Homo sapiens: one gene and its partner. The protein of the gene in region 1 interacts with the protein of each later gene in a pairwise test. Each region holds a gene or a part of one and is shown on either strand. Other genes may lie near its edges.

Region 1 (7,700 bases):
CATAAGATTCATTAAGTTTTCAAGGTTTTGTTGTTGTTTTTCCTTCAAGACAAAATCATTCATTTCATACAAATATTAGGCAGAATGTATCCAACCCGCAGCACCCACTTTGAAAAAATATGATGAGTCAATGAGACGATGCTTTAAAAACTTTTAGCACAGTGACCAGCACAGAGTAGATGGTCAATTACTTTGATCAAATCTTTTTATTAAATTTTTTTTTTTTTTTTTTTTTTTTTTGCCAAATGGGGCAGGGGGTTTTGTTTGAGACAGAGTCTTGCTCTGTCACCCAGGCTGCAGTGCAGTGGTGCGATCTCAGCTTACTGCAACCTTCACCTCCCAGGTTCAAGCGATTCTCACGCGTCAGCCTCCTGAGTAGCTAGGATTACAGGCACGTGCCACCACACCCGGGTAATTTTTGTATTTTTAGTGGAGACAGGGTTTTACCATGTTGGCCAGGCTGGTCTTAAACTCCTGGGTTCAAGTGATCTGCCCGCCTCTGCCTCCCAAAGTGTTGGGATTACAGGTGTGACCCACCACTCCTGGCCAGATCACATCTTAATAACAAGTTAGTGTGTGTCTGTGGCAGATTGTATTTTTTAAACATGGCCATACTTGTACATGTATCCCGTCCAACATGCTCTTCTTATAATATTACTGAACTTCTTACACAGAGAGATGGGGGTCTATGTTTTCTCTTTTTAAATCTGGATAGGGGCTTGTGATTTCTCCAACCCACAGAGCTCAGCAGAAGTGATGCTATATGACTTCTGAGACTAGGTCAGAAGAAGGATACAGCCTTAGCCCATCTTTGTCTCTTGATACGCTTGCCCTTGGAACCCACCGCTATGTTGTGAGGAAGCCCAGGCAACAAGGAGAGCCATGTGTGAGTGTTCCACTGACAGTGAGCACCTGTTGTCAAGACATGTGAGTCAATGAGCTTTCATACGATTCCAGCCCCAGAATTTGAGTCTTTCAGTTGAGGGGCAAGATATCATCGCCACTGTATCCTGTCTGAATTTCTAGCCCACAGAAACTGTGAGAAATAAGTCATTATTGTTGTTTTAAGCCACTAAGTTTTGGGGTAATCTGTTACACAGCAATAGATAACTAATAAAATATCCTTCCAGAATTTCCTCTAACTAGCTTCAGGGGAAAATGATATTTAATTATGTATTCACTCATTCACTCACTCAACCACGAAACCCAAAAGGGTATATTTGGCTTCAGACATGCTATTCTAGGGGGCTCAAATGATGTCATCAGAGTTCTGTGTCTCTCTTCTATTTGTTGTACCTTTCTGTAGCTCTAAGCTTTCCTCTGTTTTACGGCTCAAGATCTCAGGAGAAGTGTATTTTCCCCCAGTAGTGGCATAAACCCTAAGGAAGATCTGAATCACCTGCTCTAGCAGTGAGTCATGTTTTCAATTTCAAGTCACAGGAAATTCTCCTAACAATGATTTAAAGTTTAAGCCATAAGGACATTTACCATTTACTTAGAAGAAGTCCAGAAGTAGGAGGTCCCAGCACTAGTCAGATATCAAGGACATAAGTGTTTTCCCTCCTCCACTCTATCCTTATGCTTGGTGCCTCACAGTTACAACGTGGCCTCCCCAGCTTCAGTCATCACAACTGCCTTCAAGGCAGGAAGGAAAGGGAAGGAACCAGAAACCGCCAGTTTGTTTCTCAAGCACAGCACTTTTCTCAGGAAGTAAAATATCTAACCAGAAGCCATCCTCCTCCCTCATTGGGCAGAATGAAGTTACTTGGCCACCCCGTAGCTGTGGGAGAAGCTGTGAGAGTCGTTGACTTTCCAGTTTCTCCAGTGGGAAGCAGCAAGGGAGAAGGAGTCTCTGAATGGCTGCTGGGTTAGTGTCTTCCATGCCTGCCTGGCCTTGAACTAATCATGGCCAGAGCCATGGAGTCTCTAATTGGTTTGCTCCTAAGTCAAAGGGTAGGGCCAGCACCACACAAACTCTATGAATTGAGCAGAATTTGGGAGGTAACATCTGGTCAGGTTGTTTGCCCAAAGCAAGGGTGCATTAGAAGGTATAAAAATATCTGACCATACAAGAGTTGCAGAGTGTTCCATTGCATGGATAAACTCACAATTCTTTTAATTTGGCAACTTTAGTTCCAAGACAAGAGGATGGGAGGATAGGTGTGGGTAATAGTTTAAACACAGATGTGGAGTAGGAGGAGTACAGGGAGTCAGGAGGTTAGGGCTAGAGAGCATTTCAGTATGGTTAGAGAGTGGGCTGTAAGGAGGGTTAGGAGGAAATAAGGGGTAAGTAATAACAGCTGGCTGTGAATGCCATGCTATGCTAATATTTCATTTAATAGTCACAACAGCCACACGAGGGCAGTATTACTTAATTTCCACTCAATTCTTATGTTTCAGGTAAGAAAACTGAGACCTGGAGAAGTTGAGTCATTTGCTTGAATTACTCACTAAATAACCAGAAATTAGCCAGACCAGAATTGAAATGCAGGTCTTTCCGATTAGTCCCCACGCTGATCCAAGAGCCTCCAGGCTTCGCAGAGACCCTGCACTGGTTCCCTGCAGAAGGGGTAACTCAGGGGAAATGGGCTTAGTCACCAGAAGTCAGTCACTCTCCTCCTGGAAAGGTCTGGATGCAGATGCTGCAGACCTGGCCCATGTTATCAGACGTGATCGGAGATTGGAGTTGGAGCTTCATTGTGAAACATCTGCAGTCCTCAAGCTGAGACAACATTTCTGGCTGGGGGCGGTGGCTCATGCCTGTAATCCCAGCACTTTAGGAGGCCAAGGCGGGCAGATCACCTGAGGTCAGGAGTTCACGACTAGCCTGGCCAGCATGGTGAAACCCCATCTCTATTAAAAGTACAAAAATTAGCTGGGCATGGTGGTGGGCATCTGTAATCCCAGCTACCCGGGAGGCTGAGGCAGGAGAACTGCTTGAACCCGGGAGGCGGAGGTTGCAGTGAGCAGAGATCACACCACTGTACTCCAGCCTGGGCAACAGAGCGAGACTCCATCTCAAAAAAAAAAAAAAAAAGATTTCTGACTGAATTTAAAAATAAACAAAAACTACACCAACACCGAGCCATTCACAGCCTCTCAGGATTTGGAAAACAAAACAAAACAAAACAAAATAACACTGAGGCAAAGAGCAAGTCCCCCACACTGTAAAGGTATCAGCTCCACCATCTGGTCTCATCAGGGCCTCACCAGATGAAGCCTACCCCTAGCAAGCTGGTCTGGAGCTGCAGTTGGGCCCAAGGGCTGGGTGAGCGCCTGGGGCTGTCCACAGTGAGCAGATTCAGCAGAATTGCAGAACGTGGCCACCCGGCTGACTGAGGAAGGCCCTGTCCCGTGGGCATAAAGCCAGGATTCCTTTGGCCTTTTGCTGCTGGAGGAAAACTAGGCTGATTCAGAAGGTCTCACCACTGCTCCCTAGCACTGACTAAAGTCCGGGATGTCAGACTATGAGGTCATATATCACAAGTCTCTGTACGCCTTTGATCCCCAGTTTCCACATCAATAAAATGGCGGTAATCATATCTGACGATTGGGCGGGATTCTATGAAATAATGCGCACAAAGCTCTGGCAAAACCCTATGTAATGGAAGATGTTACTGATGACCAGCACTCAAGTCCTTCCTCCAGCCTCCGCATGGAAAGTTCCCAAGTGTCCCTAGAAGTCTGGAACACTCTAATGTTGACTGGAAAGAATAAGATGGATCTCTTTTTCTGATATGGAAGCGTCCCAAATCCAGTCATACCAGCTGGGAGGCAGTGCCCGCTAGCGGTAAAAAGCATGGATTTTGGATTTGGACAGATCCCCCTGAATTGAAGGCACAAGGGAAACCACTTGTGCCTCTGGCCAAGTTAATTTTTCTCTCCAAGCGTCAGTTTCTCCACCTGTTAAAAAGTAACGGCAAACCTACCTCACTGGAGCTTAATAAGGATTAAGTGAAATAATGCAGGTCAAATATCCGAGCCTTGATATATATAAGCCTCATGTGTATGTGTTCCCATTTATGTAAAATAACAGTGTAAGCATATTCAAAGAAAGCAATTCAGAATGTACTCTTAAACTAAGCAATGGTTATCTTGGTGTGGGGAGTTGGGGAAACCAGGGGCCTGCCTTTTTCTCTATTATATAATGCTGCAAAGTTTGATCTTTAAAAAAGGACATTAAAAAGCCCAATTGTACTTTAAACAACACAAGTTTTAATACTTGGGTAAATAAATGGCATCTAAACAAAGAAAGAAACTGAAGGCAGAGCCAGGCCCAACCCTAGGAGACTGAGGAAGCGATTCTGCTTTGCCTGCCCCCAGCTCAACCCCTGCACTAAAACCCCCCGGCCCCAGCCCCAAGGTCCAGGGGGTTGTATTCCTGGGGGCGACCCGGCGCCCCTCAAGTCTCCCTCCTCTTGCACACACACACACACAAACCAGACTCGAATCCCCGCCTCCCAAGGGAAAGTGTTTTTTAAGGTCTGTTCCAGGGCCTGCCGGGGCCAGGGACCGAGGTGGGACTGAGTGGCCGGAACTCCTCCACCTGGGAGAGTCGGTCCGGGTAGCTGCGGCCAAGCTGAGTCAGCCCGGCGGGCGGCGCACGCGGCGCCGCGTGACCCGCAGCCACGTGACCCGCGCGGGGCCGGGCCGCCGGCGCAGTCGCTGCAGCCGCCGCGGGAGGCGTCCGTGTAAGTGGGTAGCAGGGCTGGCGGGGACCTTCCTCGCGGGCCGGAGCGCGGAGCGCTGCCCCAGCCCTACGGCACTCGGGGTCGGGACCCCGGGGAGCCGCCCTCACACATTTTCCAGGAGGGATCGGAGGGGCGATGGGGTGGTAATGGGGGTGGGGGACACGCTGTACCCCACCGACGACCGCGCGGGCCACCTTCGCCTCTTTCCTTCACACTCCCACTAACCGCAGTGCTGGGGGAACAAAATGTCCTCCTTCTGGAGCGATTACCTTTTCCCTTTTGTGCTTTGGGGGAAACTGAAGACCCAGAGGGGTTCGCAAAGCAAGGTGGGCCAGTAGGAAGACCCCTCCGCTAGTCCAGAGAGAGCACACAGCTCCCCAGGCAGAGCTCATTGCCCCACCTGCTCTAGTGGCCCAGCATGATCCCATGACCTCTCTACTTCTGGAGGAAGAGTCTTGGGGTAGACGGCGGGGAGGGGGTAGGGTATCCCGTTCCGGTAGGGGCAGGGATGAGGGAGGCGGGGCTGAGCCGAGCATCTATCTGGATGGTAACAGCCAACGTAGAAAATACTAAGTTGTTTACATGCATTCTCTCATTTCATATTACCCGTCGTGAAGTCTGTGAAGTAGGTACTATTGTCCCAATTTTTACATAGGAGGAAACGGCTCAGAGAGAACTTAGGTCCTTTGACCGAGGTCCTGCAGGTGGTAAGTGAAGGAGCTGAGATTAGAACCCAGATCTGCCCCCAGTGGCGCCTCCTCGTGGTCTGTGGGTGGTGGAGACGACTGGCCTAGCCTCTTAGCTCCTCTGTGAATAGAAAGGCCTTTTTCCTGGCTCAGACAGCTTGGGAAGGGGATTGTTGCTGGGTAAGAGAAGCTTCTCCCACCACCTCCATCTCTTTCTCTGCCCCTTACCATTGATTCCTTTCTGTCATCCCCTCTCCCCCACTGCAGGACAAGATGAAGCTCATCATCCTGGAGCACTATTCTCAGGCGAGCGAGTGGGCGGCTAAATACATCAGGAACCGCATCATCCAGTTTAACCCAGGGCCAGAGAAGTACTTCACCCTGGGGCTCCCCACTGGTGCGTTCTTGGATGGAGAGGGTGCCGTGGATAAGGGTGGAGAGAGTAGGCAACAGGGGCCAGGTACACCGGCTCACTCAGCCAAGGGACTTCACGGGGGCTCTGGGGTACTGGTGCTGAGAGAGCACCTTCCTGCCCCTTCCACATACAAAGGACCCAGCTTCCCTTATGGGTTGGTTTAGTCGCTGCCTGTCCCTGCAGAATCCTGGAGCAGAAGGGATCTTGGTTGGCAGGAAGAATTTGATTTTTAGGCTACATCCTAAGTCAGCCCTGTCCACCAGGGTTTCTTAACAGAATTAAGTCCTGATACCCTAAGGCATTCATTTTATGTAATGAATTAATTTCTCTTCTCTGCATCTAGAGGGGTACCAGCTAAGTACCATCCTTGGGAGAATTGAAAAGATAGTCACTTAGGTAATTTTCTGTAAGGCTTAATTAAACACAGGACCTAAATAAAAAACAGTTCTAATTTCTTTTGGAAAAAATCAAAATGTTGCTTTTTCAGAAAGATATTTTGACCCCAGCTCCTCAAGACAAATGTCCTGATTATTTCTTTCAGAGATGGATGGGTTTGCCCTAGTGGCCCTACCTGACCCATCCATTAGCGTGTCTATGTGTGTGTGTGTGTGTTGGAGGGGTCTTCAAACTTGTTCTTTTTCCTTTTTTTTTTTTTTTTTGGTCTTCCTTGCAGTCCAGACTTTTTCTGTAAATGGCCAGTAGTAAATATGTTAGACTTCACTAGCCATATAGTCTCTGTTGCAACAACTTAACCCTTCTGTTGTTTGAAAGCAGCTATAATTAGCCTGGCATGGTGGCGCTCACCTGTAGTCCCAGCTTCTTGGGAGGCTGAGGTAGGTGGATTGCTTGAGCCAGTAGATTGAGGCTGCAGTGAGCCATGATTGTGTCACTGTACTCCAGTCTGGGTGACAGTGAGACCCTGTCTCAAAAAAAGAAAAGACAATATATAAGTGAATGAGTATGGTTGTATGCCAATAAAACTGTATGGACACTGAAGTTTGAACTTATATAATTTTCACATGTCACAAAATATTATTCTTCTTTAATTAAAAAAAAAACTATTTAAAAATGTAAAAACCAGGCCAGGCATGGTGGCTCATATCTGTAATTTCAGCACTTTGGGAGGCTGAGGTAGGCAGATTGCTGGAGCCCAGGAGTTTGAGATTAGCCTGGGCAACATGGCAAAACCCCATCTCTACAAAAAATAGAAAAATTAGCTAGGCATGGTGGCACATGCCTGTAGTCCCAGCTACTGAGGAGGCTACGGTGTGAGGTGTGAGTATTGCTTGGGCCAGGAGGTCGAGGCAGTGAACCATGATTGTGCAATTGCACTCCAGCCTAGGTGACAGAGCAAGATTCTGTCTCAAAAAAAAAAAAAAAAAGAAAGAAAAGAAAACCATTCTTAACTCATAAGCTGTATAAAAACAGGCCACAGGGCCGGGTGTGGTGGCTCACGCCTGTAATCCCAGCACTTTGGGAGGCTGAGGTGGGTCGATCATTTGAAGTCAGGAATTTGAGACCAGCCTGGCCAACATGGTGAAACCCTGCCTCTACTAAAAATATAAAAATTAGCTGGGCATGGTGGCGGGCACCTATAATCCCAGCTACTCAGGAGGCTGAGGCAGGAGAATCAATTGAACCCAGCAGATAGAGGTTACAGTGAGCTGAGATTGTGCCACTGCACTCCAGCTTGGGTGACAGCGATACTCTGTCTAAAAAAATAAAAAATAAAGGCCGCAGGCCAAATTTGGCCTGTGGACCAAAGTTTGCTGAGTTCTGCACTAGAGGTTTGTGGGAGTAGTATCCACCTGTGCCTGTGAAACTACCAATGTCTCAGGCCCTCGGAGGCTGTGCTAACATCCTGTCTCCTAACTGTGGAGAGACCCAACCTCTGTATGGGTCAGAGTC
Region 2 (7,000 bases), on another chromosome or scaffold:
TCTGTTCACTTTAGTACTGCGCCTTGTATCAGGTTGTGGAAACAAATAACCTTGTTCCACTAAACTTTTCATAAGTTGAGGGAATTCTCCTCTCAAGTGATACTCTTTTGTTATGTTTTAAACAAATTTCTGATGAAAAAATACCATAACCAAAATAATTTGATTTGCAGATTATGGATGATTGGCCAGGGTATGACTTGAATTTATTCACGTACCCACAGCACTATTATGGAGACTTGGAGTATGTCCTCATCCCTCATGGTATCATTGTGGACAGGTGAGTGTGATTTCCTGTGTCAATCTTGGTCCTGCACTGGGCCGGCCCACACTTGTGTGAATCCCACAATATACTTTAGGACCCTATTCCTGAGCTGCGTTTTATAGTGGTAGAGAGAACTTTTATATAGGGCAGTGAATTTGGAATAAAATGAATGTATGCTTAAATTGAATGGTTTACCTGGACATTTGTTCAGGCGGTATGGTAATATGGTAAGAAGGATATACATACATAAGCTATTATAAGTAACAGCCTCAAAATAACAATGTCCTAAGATGGCTTTTCCGTGGCAAAGAAGTCCCACCCTCACAGAGGGGGGACGTTCCGTGATCAAATAAACTTTGGAAATTTTGTGTCTTCCATATTTTTGTCTCTCAGTTGACAAATCAAAACAAACATTAGCATATTGAAAATATGGAAATTCCAGCCAAAAGAAAAGAAGAACACAGAAAAGAAACCTGCTTGACTTTAACAATTAAAGCAACCTTTTTTTGTGCAAAGGGAGACTTTGTACTCAGTTTACCTATTTACAACTCTCAGAAGAGATTTCCCTTAATACCAGTTTGGGAAGCTCCTAATTTAAACAAATTCTTGCATTTCTTACCTGAATTTTCTAATTTAAAATTAATTTAAAATCAGTCAGAACATGATTGACTCCTGGGTAGGGGGTAGGGTTACCCTAAGCCTTTTCTTTGTACAAGAGAATCATCCAGTAAACTTGTTAAAATGCATATTCTTAAGCTTTATGTCTAGAAATTTCAAATCGATATTCTAGGGTGGGGCCCAAGAATGTCCGTTTTCACCTTTGAAATAAATTTATAAGCCAGGGGCTATGGCATGCACCTGTAATCCAGGCTACTCCAGAGGCTGAAGTGTGGGGATCACTTGAACCCAAAAATTTGAGACTAACCTGGGCTAATCTCAAATACTGAGATCTTGTCTCAAAAAAAAAAAAAATTAAGATGTAATTTACAGGGCTGGGTACAGTGGCTCGTTCCTGTAATCCCAGCACTTTGGGAGGCTGAGGCAAGAGGACTGTTTGAGCCAGGAGTTTGAGACCAGCCTGGGCAATGTAGTGAGAACCCGTCTCTACAAAAAAATAAAAAACATTAGTCAGGCATAGTAGCACAGGCCTGTAGTCCCAGCTACTAGGGAGGCTAAGGCGAGAGGATCACTTGAGTCTGGGAGGTCAAGGCTGCAGTGAGCCATGATCACACCACTGCACTGTAGCCTGGGGAACAGAGCGAGACCTTGTCTCAAACACACAAACACACACACACACACACACACACAAGATTAATTTATATACTACTGCACAAAATTCACCCATTGCAGGTGAACAACTAAATGATTTTTAGTAAATTTTTATGGTCAGGCAACCATCAGCACCATCCAGTTTTACATTTCCATCATCCCCAAAAGTTTGTTTGCAGCCAATCCCTGCTCCCACTTCCAGCATCTTTTTCTATAAATTTGTCTTTTCTGGCCATTTTGCGTAAGAAAATCGTACAATAGCTAATTATTGATTGACCAGTTGATGTACATTTGGATGTCCCATTTTTGGCTATTGTGGAAATGCTTCTATAAACATTCACATATAAGTTTTGTGTGGACATATCTTTTCATTTCTCTTGGATGGATTTCTCATTGTGGAATTCTGGGTTTTCTGGTAAGTGTAAGAAACTGCCAATTATTTTCCAAAGTGGCTGCACCTTGTTACATTGCCACCAGCAGCATATGAAGGTTTCAGTTTTTCCACATACTTGCCAACATTGAATATTGTCTGTCCTTTTGATTATAGCCATTCTTGTGGCTGTCTAATGGTATCTCACCGTGGTTTTAATTTGTATTTTCCTAATCATTAGTATACTTGTTAGCTATTCATAAGCCTTCTTTGGAGAGAGGTCTTTTCAAGTCTTTTGCCAATTTTTAAATTCAATTGTTCATCTTCTTATTGAACTATAAGAGTTCTTTATATATTTTGGATAATAGTCCTTTATCAGATATATGATTTGCAAATATTTACTCCCAGCCTATGGTTTGTCTTACTATTTTCTTACTGGTATCTTTTAAGAAGAATGTGTATCCTGCTGTTGTGGGGTGAAGTATTGTATATGTGTTAATTAGATCCAGTCAGTTGATGGTGCTTCTCAGTTCAACTATATGCTTACTGATTCTCTGACTGTTGGACCTGTCAATTACTGATAGAGGGGATGTTAAAGTCTCCAAATAGTGCATTTGCCTGTTTCTCCTTGCAGTTCTATTAGGTTTTTGACACTTTGTTTTTAGGAGCATATATATTAGGAATTGTTATGTCTCTTTGGATAATCGACCTCCTTATTATTGTGTAATGATGCTCTTTATCCCTGCATATTCCTCACTCAGAAGTCTGCTCTGTCTGAAATTAAAATAGCTACTCCAACTTTCTTTTGATTAATGTTAGCATGGCATGTCTTACTCCATCCATTTAATCTATCTGTTTTTATATTTATATTTAAAGTGAGTTTCTTTTTCTTTTTTTTTTTTTTTTTTTTTTGAGATAGAGTCTCACTCTGTCACCCTGGCTGGAGTGCAGTGGCACAATCTCGGCTCACTGCAACCTCCAACTCCCGGGTTCAAGTGAACCTCCTGCCTCAGCCTCCCAAGTAGCTGGGATTATAAGCATGCACCACCACACCTGGCTAATTTTTTGTATTTTTAGTAGAGATGGGGTTTCACCATGTTGGCCAGGATGGTCTTGATCTCCTGACCTGAAGGGATCTGCCTGCCTTGGCCTCCCAAAGTGCTGGGATTATAGGTGTAAGCCATAAAGTGAGCTTCTTGTGGGCAATATACAGTTAGATCTTTTTTTAATCCACCCTGACAGTCTGTCTTTTAATTGCTATATTTAGACCATTCATATTTAAAATGAGTATTGATATAATGTTTAGTATCTATCGTATTTATAACTATTTTCTATTCATTGCTGTTGTTGTTTCCTTTTTTGTCTTCCACTCTGTGAAATTCTACTTTTTTTTTTTTTTTTTTTGAGTCAGAGTTTCACTCTTATCACCCAGACTGGAGTGCAATAGCACAGTCTGGGCTTACTGCAACCTCCGCCTCCTGGGTTCAAGTGATTCTCCTGCCTCAGCTTCCTGAGTAGCTGGGATTACAGGCGCAGACCACCAAGCCCGGCTAATTTTTGTATTTTTAGTAGAGATTGGGTTTCACCGTGTTGGCCAGGCTGATCTTGAACTCCTGACCTCAAGAGATCTGCCCACCTCACTGTGTGACTTCTGATGTCTGTGAGGTTTATTTTTCTCTTGTTTTTATTTTTAAGCCTCACTTACTAGGGATCACCCTGTGTTTGAATAGCTTAGTGTTTGGCCTACAATTGGTTAGAAGTTGTGCTCAAATACGTCAAGCCAGTAAGTCTTCCACTCTCTGCTGATGGGGGTGTGTGGGGACTTGAAAGTAGATTCAAATTTCCAACCATTTTCAAATCTTTCGATGTTTACTTTCCCCTGAGCTTTCTTGTGCCTTCTCTGCACATGTACACAGCCTTCACTGTCCAGGGATGTGTGGGTGGCTTGAACTCACTCTGCTGTGCATATGTACAGCCTCTGGTCAATTGAGATGCATGAAGAACTTATTGTGTGCCCCTGTTCTATGACTGTCTAACCTCCTCCCTGGAACTTCCTATCAAATCCCCAGCCAGCCTGCCAGTGCACTGCTCAGCGGTGACTGCACCTCAGGATAGTGGAGCCCTGCCACCAAGGTGACCATTTTAGCTTACAGTGTTCCCTATCAGGTGAGCTCCCTCTGGCAGTGCACCACCTTGGTGGAACTGCCTGTTTGAACAACAGAGCTGGGGATAGGGGCTGGGGGGTAATAAGAGCATCCCCACACAAGAATGCCCCAGACTCATGCTGTTTCCACCCAGTGTTCAGGGTTTTCAGAATTAAATGCTTCTCAGTTTGTTGTATGCCTTTGGTTGATTTCCAACATGATGAGATGGTTGTTTTTGGCAGTTTTGCCCAGTTTTATAGTTGCTTTTCTGGAGAGGATGTGTTCACCTCCTTACTTCATCATGTTGGAAACAAATGTTCTTTTTTTTTTTTTGAGAAGGAGCCTTGCTCTGTCGCGCAGGCTGGAGTAGTACAGTGGTGCAATCTCAGATCATTGCAACCTCTGCCTCCTTGGTTCAAGGGATTCTCCTGCCTCAGCTTCCCGAGTAGCTGGGATTACAGGCACCCGCCACCATGCCCGGCTAATTTTTGTATTTTTAGTAGAGACGGGGTTTCACCACGTTGGCCAGGCTGGTCTCAAACTCCTGACCTTAAGTGATCTGCCCATCTTGGATTTCTTAAAGTGCTGGGATTACAGGTGTGAGACACCACTCTTGGCCCAAATGTTCCTTTTTAAGGAGCATGCCAGATATTCTGATGTACATTTTTTATGATCGTGTGTCTTCTTTAGAATTCAGTAAATACTGCCAGGCATGGTGGCTCATGCCTGTAATCCCAGCACTTTGGGAAGCCAAGGTGGCCAGGTCACCTGAAGTCAGGAGTTCGAGACCAGCCTGGCCAACATGGCAAAACCTCGTCTCTACTAAAAATACAAAAATTAGCTGAGCATAGTGGCAGGCGCCTGTATTCCCAGCTACTTGGGAGGCTGAGGCAGGAGAATCACTTGAACCCAGGAGGTGGAGGTTGCAGTGAGCCAAGATCGTGCCACTGCACTGCAGCCTGGGCAACAGAGTGAGACTCCATCTTAAAAAAAAAAAAAAAAAAAAGCAGTATGTTTTGAACACCTTATGTTCAACCTTAACAAAGCTTTTCTATCGGTGGGTTTCTGTTTCCCAAGGTTTTCCCCACATTCCTCTGAGTAATCGAATACGTACAATACATCTTGCATTTCATTAAAGCAACATAAATACTCAGAAGTAGTTGTGCCTTAATATATCTTTTATCCTTCTTTCAGAATTGAGCGGCTGGCCAAGGATATTATGAAAGACATAGGATATAGTGACATCATGGTCCTGTGTGTGCTTAAAGGAGGTTACAAATTCTGTGCTGATCTCGTAGAACACCTTAAGAACATCAGCCGAAATTCAGATCGATTTGTCTCAATGAAGGTTGATTTCATCAGACTAAAAAGTTACAGGGTAAGTTATTACAAGTTCCGCTTTATGACATTTCATTTAACAATGCTTTAGGATAAAAGAATCAATAATGTTATGAAAATGAAGAGTGCAATTTTTAAAAATGGAGATGAAAATGAAGGGTAATTTTAATTTGCAAGAATACGGCAACCTAACATAAGAATTCAAATGATACTATTTAGGGCGTGGGGTGGGGACCTTCTCTCTATTTTCACATATATGGGAAGACTCAGCAGTAATGATTTGTGCTTTCTTTTATGGTGATAAAGTGAGTGGTTATATCCTGGTGCCCAGCCCCACAACTGTGTGTGGTCAGAGTGTGAACACTGATTTGTTTTTTCTACTCTGGATGTCACTATGGGTCCTGGGGACCTATGGGAGGGTGTCCAGCCCAGAGAGGAGTCTTAGTACTTGGGTGGCTGCAGTTGTGGCCTGGAAGTAAAGAAGGGAAGGCTATAGGGACAGCACATTGCCAAGTGTGAGGAAACAAGGCCAGGGAGCTCCAGCAGAAGGCCCCTCCACCAGTTTACTCCATTAATTCTGTCTTTCTGTGGGCACCACTGGGCAGAATTAATGGAATTATTCTCCAAAGATGTTTCCTAACCAGATGCAGTGGCTCATGCATATAATCCCAACACTTTGGGAGGCCAAGACAGAAGGATCCCCTGAAGCCAGGAGTTCGAGACCAGCCTGGGCAACATAGTGAGTCCCTGTCTATATACAAAAAGAAAATTTTTAAAATTAGCTGAGTGTGGTGGCATGTGCCTATGGTCCCAGGTACTCAAGAGGCTGAAGTGGGAGGATTGTTTGAGCCCAGGAGACAGAGGCTGCAGTGAGCTGTATGGCACCACTGCACTCCAGCCTGGATGACAATGAAACTCTTGCCAAAAAAAAAAAGCTGTTGTTTCCTTAGTCTCCCTCCTCCTCCCTCTATGATGTTAACTTCTTTGATGCTTTTTGATTTAATGCATAGTAAAACATTAAAAATAACTTACTATTGGGTGAGGAGCTCTTGGAGTCAAACCATGAAAATATTCTCGTTGACTAAACTAACTTGACACATTTTAATTCATGAATCACTCTTTGAATTGGCCTTCTATTGCTGTGTGGCAAACTCACCACAAACGTAGTGGCTTAAACCAACATACACGTGTATTATCTTAAAGTTTCTGTAGGTCAGAAATCTGAGCATGGTGTAGCTGAGTTTTCAGCTCAGAACCTTACAGGGATGAAATCAGTGTGTTAGTTGGGATTTTGATATCATCTGAGGTTTTCAAGATCACTGACTGTTGGCAAGCTCAGTTCCCATTTCCTTGTTGACTGTAGGCTGGAGTTGGTAGACTCTCCACTCCTAGGGGTTGTCCCCAGGTGTTTGCATCAATTACCCCACAGGTCGTTCACAACACCATTAGCTGTTTGCTTCTTCAAGTCTGACGGAATAATCTTAGCCCTTCTTTTATAGCTCACCTGATTAGATCATGTTCACCCAGGTAACCTGCCTTTTGATGAACTCAAAGTCATCTGACTAGTCACCTAATCTTTGGTGCGAATTCCCACCACGTTTACAAGTCTTACCCACA

Evidence for each region. Proteins that work in one complex are often made in the same cells at the same time.
Region 2: the proteins of GNPDA1 (region 1) and PRTFDC1 interact in binary tests that used the Homo sapiens proteins (3 or more experiments, as listed by UniProt).

What each region holds. Positions count from the first base shown.
Region 1 is NC_000005.10:142,009,986-142,017,685, reverse strand, and holds the start of GNPDA1 (glucosamine-6-phosphate deaminase 1), read left to right. Parts: upstream 1-4,658; 5' UTR 4,659-4,691; exon of another isoform or gene 4,692-4,936; coding exon of another isoform or gene 4,937-5,017; intron 5,018-5,346; exon of another isoform or gene 5,347-5,398; intron 5,399-5,644; coding exon of another isoform or gene 5,645-5,650; coding exon 5,651-5,774; intron 5,775-7,700. UniProt on the Homo sapiens protein: Catalyzes the reversible conversion of alpha-D-glucosamine 6-phosphate (GlcN-6P) into beta-D-fructose 6-phosphate (Fru-6P) and ammonium ion, a regulatory reaction step in de novo uridine diphosphate-N-acetyl-alpha-D-glucosamine (UDP-GlcNAc) biosynthesis via hexosamine pathway.
Region 2 is NC_000010.11:24,935,607-24,942,606, reverse strand, and holds part of PRTFDC1 (phosphoribosyltransferase domain-containing protein 1), read left to right. Parts: intron 1-170; coding exon 171-277; intron 278-5,239; coding exon 5,240-5,423; intron 5,424-7,000. UniProt on the Homo sapiens protein: Has low, barely detectable phosphoribosyltransferase activity (in vitro). Binds GMP, IMP and alpha-D-5-phosphoribosyl 1-pyrophosphate (PRPP). Is not expected to contribute to purine metabolism or GMP salvage.